2 linked regions of the Homo sapiens genome follow. The protein of the gene in region 1 interacts with the protein of each later gene in a biochemical or structural test. Each region holds a gene or a part of one and is shown on either strand. Other genes may lie near its edges.

Region 1 (3,753 bases):
GATTGGGCCACTGTACTCCAGCCTGGGCGAAAGAGTGAGACCCTGTCTCAAACAAAACAAAGAAACAAAAATCTGAATTGTAGACTCTTTGTAGATAAGAACATATTTTTTAAAAAAGTTAAGACTAGGGCCAAGTGCGGTGGCTTTCACCTGTAATCCCAGCACTTTGGGAGGCTGAGGTGGGCGGATCACCTGAGGTCAGGAGTTCAAGACCAGCCTGGCTAACATGGTGAAACCCCATCTCTACTAAAAATACAAAAATTAGCTGGGTGTGGCGGTACACCCCTGTAGTCCCAGCTACTTGGGAGGCTGAGGCAGGAGAACCACTTGAGCCCATGAGGCGGAGGTTGCCGTGAGCTGAGAACGCAACATTCAACTCCAGCCTGGGCCACAGAGTGAGACTCCACCTCAAAAACAAATAAAAAGTTAAGACTAAAACAGTTTATAGTGATTAGGAGTTCAGCTGTCTAGTTTTGTTTTTGTTTTGAGATGGAGTTTCACTCTTGTTGCCCAGGCTGGAGTGCAATGGTGCGATCTCGGCTCACCTCAACCTCTGCCTCCCAGGTTCAAGCAGTTTCCTGCCTCAGCCTCCCGAGTAGCTGGGATTACAGGCATGCGCCACCACGCCCGGCTAATTTTGTATTTTCAGTGGAGACGGGGTTTCTCCATGTTGGTCAGGCTGGTCTCAAACTCCCGACCTCAGGTGAAAAAGTGCTGGGACCTCAGGTGAAAAAGTGAGTCACTGCACCTGGCCCAGCTGTCTCGTTTTTAGAAATAGATTAAGACTCAAAAAAAATATTGCCCACCGTAATATATCTGATTATTAGCAAAGCTTGGACTAGAGTCTAGGTTCTAGTCTAGTGGCCCTTGTACTATACCTGTAATTTTATTGCTTTCTAGTGCATTGGATGATTCCAACTAGGCTGACAAAGTAATAATATCTAAAGGTTAGCCAGGACCATTTCAATAGTTAAGAATTATTATTTTTTTCTTTGGTTTTTATTTTATTTTGTCTTCCTTTTTTTTTTCATTTTCAGGAAGTGAGCAGTTTCTCAAAATTATTATAATTAATGGACCAGCTAATTTGTATAGTGCTTAAAATATTTTAGTAACATAAATTTTACTAAATAAATTTACTAATTTAGTAAATAAATGTTCTCCTTTTATTTCATTGTAAACATTAATTTCTTTAGTAAATCCTGTATTTATATTGTAAATGTTTAGCGATAAAATAATGATATTTCACTGTTTTTGTTTGGTCTAATATTTAAGTCTGGTAGGTAGTATTAGCAGAGAGCAAAACCTACAGTTTATGAAATAAACATTCATTGAGCACTTAATGTGTTCCAGGCATTCATTGTAGTATGTGGTAGGATTCCAAGGATAAATATGGCAAAACAAATGCCTTTCTTCTGTTTTTTTTTTTTTTTTTTTTTTTTTTGAGACGACGGAGTCTGGCTCTGTTGCCCAGGCTGGAGTGCAGTAGCGCGATCTTGGCTCACTGCAGGCACTGCCTCCCGGCTTCACGCCATTCTCCTGCCTCAGCCTCTCAAGTAGCTGGGACTACAGGCACCCGCCACCACACCCGGCTTAGAGTGTGTGTGTGTGTGTGTGTGTGTGTGTGTGTGTGTGTGTGTGTGTTTTAGTAAAGACAGGGTGTCACCGTGTGTGTGTGTGTTTTAGTAAAGACAGGGTTTCACCATGTTAGCCAGGATGGTCGCATTCTCGTGTGTGTGTGTGTGTGTGTGTGTGTGTGTGTGTGTGTGTGTGTGTGTGTTTTAGTAAAGACAGGGTTTCACCGTGTGTGTGTGTGTGTGTGTTTTAGTAAAGACAGGGTTTCACCATGTTAGCCAGGATGGTCGCATTCTCCTGACCTCGTGATCTGCCTGCGTTGGCCTCCTAAAGTGCTGGGATTACAGGCGCGAGCCATCACACCAGGCCGCCTTTCTTCTTTTTTTTTTTTTTTTGCTTTTTTATGTTCGTCTGTTTTTATTTTGCTTTTGTGTGTTTGTTTGTTTTTCCATTGTTCTTTTGAGGCTGGGAGATTATCATGAGCTGTCAATTCTCAAGCTTTATCTCTGTGAGATAATCTGGTAATAGTTTTATAAAATGTAACCTGTTAGCACTATTAAAGGACATTGTGTGAGTAGATATGAAGAGACAAACAGTAGTGATAAGATAAAAAATACTTTAGAATTTAACAAATACTGTTTCTGTATCTTAGAGGTCATGTGCTACAGTGTTTGGAAAGAGCCCTACGTTGGGTACCACAGTACAGGTTATTGACTTTGTTTCCAATTAGCTGTGGGATTGTGCATGTCAATGACCCCATCTTTCTTTACATGTTCACATTTTTGATATGTTATTTTAGGTGTTGAATTCAAAACATAAAAAGGGTATTTTAAGGCCGGGCGTGGTGGCTCACGCCTGTAATCCCAGCACTTTGGGAGACTGAGGCGGGCGGATCACGAGGTCAGGAGATCTAGACCATCCTGGCACCCCTCTCTGCTAAAAAAAAAAAAAAATACAAAAAATTAGCTGGGCGTGGTGGCAGGCGCCTGTAGTCCCAGCTACTTGGGAGGCTGAGGCAGGAGAATGGTGTGAACCCGGGAGGCGGACCTTGCAGTGAGCCGAGATTGCGCCACTGCACTCCAGCCTGAGCTACAGAGCGAGACTCCGACTCAAAAAAAATAAAAGGGTATTTTGAATATTTTATTTTATTTATTTGTTTTTGAGACATTGTCTTGCTGTGTCACCCAGGCTGGAGTTCAGTGCATGATCCCAGCTCACTGCAACCTCCACCTCCTGGGTTCAAGTAATTCTGGTGACTCAGCCTCCCAAGTAGCTGGGATTACAGGCGTGTGCTACCACACCTGGCTAATTTTTTTTTTTTTGGTATCTCTTTTTTTCCCCTCGGAGACAGAGTCTTGCTCTGTCGCCCAGAGCTGGAGTGCAATGGCTGCGATCTCTGTTCACTGCAGACTCCGCCTCCTGGGTTCAGGCAATTCTCCTGCCTCAGCCTCCCGAGTAGCTGGGATTACAGGCGCACGCCACCACAACTGGCTAATTTTTGTATTTTTAGTAGAGACGGGGTTTCACCATGTTAACCAGGTTGGCCTCGAACTCCTGACCTCGTGATCCACCCACCTCAGCCTCCCAAAGTGCTGGGATTACAGGTGTGAGCCACCACACCCAGCCTTTTTTGTATTTTAAGTAGAGACAGGATTTCACCATGTTGCCCAGGCTGGTCTTGAACTCCTGACCTCATGTGATCTGCCCGCCTTGGCCTCCCAAAGTGCCAGGATTACAGGCATGAGCCACTGTGCCGGCCTTTGAGTATTTTAAGTTATAAAAGAAATATGTGTTTCTATATATATTATATAATATATATTATACATGATATATAATATATATGATATAAATTATATTATATACAATATATTATATATGATTAATATATAATATATGATATATCATATATAATATCAAAATATATAATATGTATATAATAATGTATGATATATATAATATAGTATATAATATATTACATGTATAATATATTATATATAATATATAATACAATATATGTAAAATATATATAATATATAACACAATATAATATGTAAAATATATTACATATATAATATATATATTTTTCAGACAGAGTCTAGCTCTGTCACCCAGGCTGGAGTGCAGTGGTGAGATCTTGGCTCACTGAACCTCCGCCTCCCAGGTTCAAGCGATTCTTCTGCC
Region 2 (3,753 bases), on another chromosome or scaffold:
CGTGATCTCTCAATCCAGAGCTGAGAGAGGGAGAAAAAAAAGAGGATCATGAAACTATAACAAGAATTTTACTTATCCCCATCTATAATTTAATATTTCTGTCTTAATGGCACTATTTTGCTGGCATTAAGCATACAAACGAGAAAATAGCCTCAATCCTTCCAAATCATAAAGCTATTCTAAAATATGCTGCAAAAAAGTCACCTAGAGGACAACTGTCTTATTTACCTTTATAAAATTAATTTCCTATCAGAATCATGTGAGAAGTTTACTCCTCCCATTTTGGGGAGTTGGTTTGGAAGGGGGAGTTTAGCTTTTAATTTCTATCAACCCCTGACCTCTGTGAACTTCAAACATGCTCCCAGCCTCAGCAGCCAAAGTGAAAAGCCCAAGCAATATGTTTTCTCCCAGACACTTAAACTCGGCTCAGTTTGATTCTGGCAGCCCACTCACTTGCCTGTCTTTCCCACCCCACCCCACCCCCCCGCCCCAGCTTATGGAGCTGGGAAGGATGCTGAGCTGCATTATAGGAATTCTGCTTCCACTAAATCAAAAACCCGCCAACCTTCTGAGTCTAAATATTTCCAGCTCTGGCTCTAGGCTCCTTTTCTCCAAAGTTGTGACTTTATTGCCTTCAACATAATTGCTTCACATAGAGTATATATTCTAGAAGCAAAAACCAGCTCCAAATACAAAACACTACAATACAGAAATAGCCATGCCAGTGATTTGGTGAAAATAGGCTGAAAAAGGAACAGCAAATGACTCCAGGAGACACCACTTGATAGAAATGGGAAGCTCAAGGAAGAATGATAATGTGGTTTGATCATCAAGATATGTGGAGTTTAAAAAGAAGAAGCTTAACGCAAGAGGATATGAAGAGACGCTTAAGTATAAAACTAAAATCAAGAAATAACCTTAGAACAAAGACAGTTTAGGAGGATGACTTAGGACCAGTGAGTACAAAGAAAGAACTTATAGAGAACTTAATTCATACTAGTCCTGTGAGTCAGAAAAGAGAAAAAGAAACCTGCAAATTATTACTAATAACCTATGCACCAAATATGAGGAACTATGGCTCAGACAGGACAAATGACCTTTTTCTGTGTCATGCAACTTGTGAGAGGGATTTCATCCTGGGTCTTTCAGACTTGGGAACCCATCTTCTTGCCACTAAATCACTCTGCCTGTCAGAAACAGAAAAGCAGCCACCAAAGCAGGATAATAGAAGGGTTCAGCCAGGGCCCACATCCCTGCTCTCTGCTCTCTGATTTACTGCGTTCTACAAGTTAATGAACCTCTTTGTACCACAGCTGCTTCCTCTATAAAATAATACCTATATCATAAAATGTTGGGAGCACAAACAGGTGTATAAAACACTTCAAATAGGCCAGGAGCAGTGGCTCACACTGTAATCCCAGCACTTTGGGAGCCACAGGCGTGTGGATCACCTGAGGTCAGGAGTTCGAGACCAGCCTGCCCAACATAGTGAAACCTCGTCTCTATTAAAAGTACAATAATTAGCTAGGTGTGTAATCCCAGCTACTTGGGAGACTGAGGCAGAAGAATCGCTTGAACCCAGGAGGCGGAGGTTGCAGTGAGCTGAGATCATGCCATTGCATTCCAGCTGGGGCAACAAGAGCGAAACTCAGTCTCAAAAAAATAATAATAATAAAAATAAAACACTTCAAATAGTGCCTGAGATATAGTAAAAGTTTTGTAAGTGCCAGATAGTGGTGTAATTATCATTATATTAGGTATAAGTCAGTGAAAGCCAGAAAGAATAGATTTGTTTGAGACAGGTTCTCACTCTCTTACCCAGGCTGGAATACAGTGGTGCAGTCATGGCTCACTGCAGCCTCAAACTCCTGGGCTCACATGATCCTCCTGCCTCAGCCTCCCTACAGGCACCTGCCACCACACCCAGCTGATTTTGTTTATTTTATTTATTTGTCTTTAGAAACTATGTTGCTCAGGCTGGTCTCAAACTCCTGGTTTCAAATGATCCTCCCACATCATGGCATGAGCCACCATGCCCAGTCCTGATTTCTGTTTATCAGCAACTTCCAGCACTAATTTTCACATTTTAACATACACATGAATCACCTGGGGATCTTGTTAAACACACAGATTCCGATTCAGTGGATCAAAGGTGGGACCTGGGATTCTGCCTTTCCAACAAGCCCCAGCTGAGCTAATGACGCTGGTCTACAGACCACATTCTGAGTAGCAAGGACTTAGCCGAAAGAAATAGCTTTGGTCTTGAACCAGAACTTAAGGAAATGGGGGAAGAGTGGAGCAGAGCAGGAATGAGAAAAGTCCAGAGAAACCAGGGACAAGCCAAATTTAGTAACATGAGACCTATGACTGCTGTGCTGAACAGTGCCCTCTGATTTCACTAGGGGGAAAGCCCCAGTGAAAGTGGTGCCATAATCTAAACAGATTACTGAGCTCTTGAAAAATAAAAACAATGAGAAAGGGATAATAAAGAAGTACAGACCGCGGGCGGTGGCTCACGCCTGTAATCCCAGCACTTTGGGAGCCCGAGGCAGGCGGATCACAAGGTCAAGAGATGGATACCATCCTGGCCAACATGGTGAAAACCCATCTCTACTAAAAATACAAAAATTAGCTGCGCGTGGTGGCACACGCCTGTAGTGCCAGCTCCTCGGGAGGCTGAGGCAGGAGAATCACTTGAACCCAGGAGGCAGAGGTTGCAGTGAGCCGAGATCGCATCACTGCACTCCAGCCTGGTGACAGAGCGAGACTCCGTCTCAAAAAAAAAAAAAAAAAAGAAGTACAACAGAAAAGCCCAGGAGAATGATATTTGTAGGACAAGCCACCTCTCTCAGTACTTAGTATTAAATGTTTTGAAACAACAGTGAAATCAGCTGGAGAACCTTCTTTTGGAAGCTGTCCTAGCCTTTGCTTTATTACACAGGTCTTAGCGCTGGCCTCTGATATTGTCATTCAGAGTTCAAAGAAAAATGTAGGTTTTGTGAGGTTTTGGTGTAGTTTTTTTTTGCTTGTTTGTTTGTTTGAGACAGGGTCTCACTCTGTTGCACAGGCTGGAGTGCAGTGGCATGAGCACAGCTCATTACAGCCCAGACTCAGGTGATCCTCCCATCTCGACCTCCCCAAGTAACTGGGACCACAGGTGCAAACCACCACACCTGGCTAATTTTTGTTTTTTGTTTTTTGTTTTTTTAAATGGGGTCTCGCTTTCTTGCCCAGGCTGGAGTACAGGGGCGTGATCCCAGCTCACTGCAACCTCTGCTGCCCAGGTTCAAGCGATTCTCTGACCTCAGCCTCCCAAGTAGCTGGGATTACAGGCATGCGACACCACACCCAGCTAATTTTTATATTTTTTAAGTAGGGATGGTGTTTCACCAAGTTTGCCAGGCTGGTCTCAAAATCCTGACCTCAAGTGATCTGCCCACTTTGGCCTCCCAAAGTACTGGGATTACAGGCGTGAGTCACGGCACCTGGCCTAATTTTTATTTTTTGTAGAGACAGGGTTTCACCGTGTTCCCCAGGCTGGTCTCGAACTCTCAGGCTCAAGCAATCCTCCCACCTCAGCCTCCCAAAGTGCTAGGATTACAGGGCTGAGCCAACATGCCCAGCCGAAAAATGTGTTTTAAAATACCTAAAATATGGCCAGGCGTGGTGGCTCATGCCTGTAATCCCAGTACTGTGGGAGGCCGAGGTGGGTGGATCACTTGAGGTCAGGAGTTCGAGACCAGCCTGGCCAAC

What was found.
Region 2: the proteins of XIAP (region 1) and HTRA4 form a complex in vitro, tested with the Homo sapiens proteins (2 studies listed by BioGRID and IntAct, with this or other methods).

What each region holds. Positions count from the first base shown.
Region 1 is NC_000023.11:123,863,041-123,866,793, forward strand, and holds part of XIAP (E3 ubiquitin-protein ligase XIAP), read left to right. Parts: intron 1-3,753.
Region 2 is NC_000008.11:38,984,203-38,987,955, reverse strand, and holds part of HTRA4 (serine protease HTRA4 precursor), read right to left. Parts: intron 21-3,753; coding exon 1-20. UniProt on the Homo sapiens protein: Serine protease.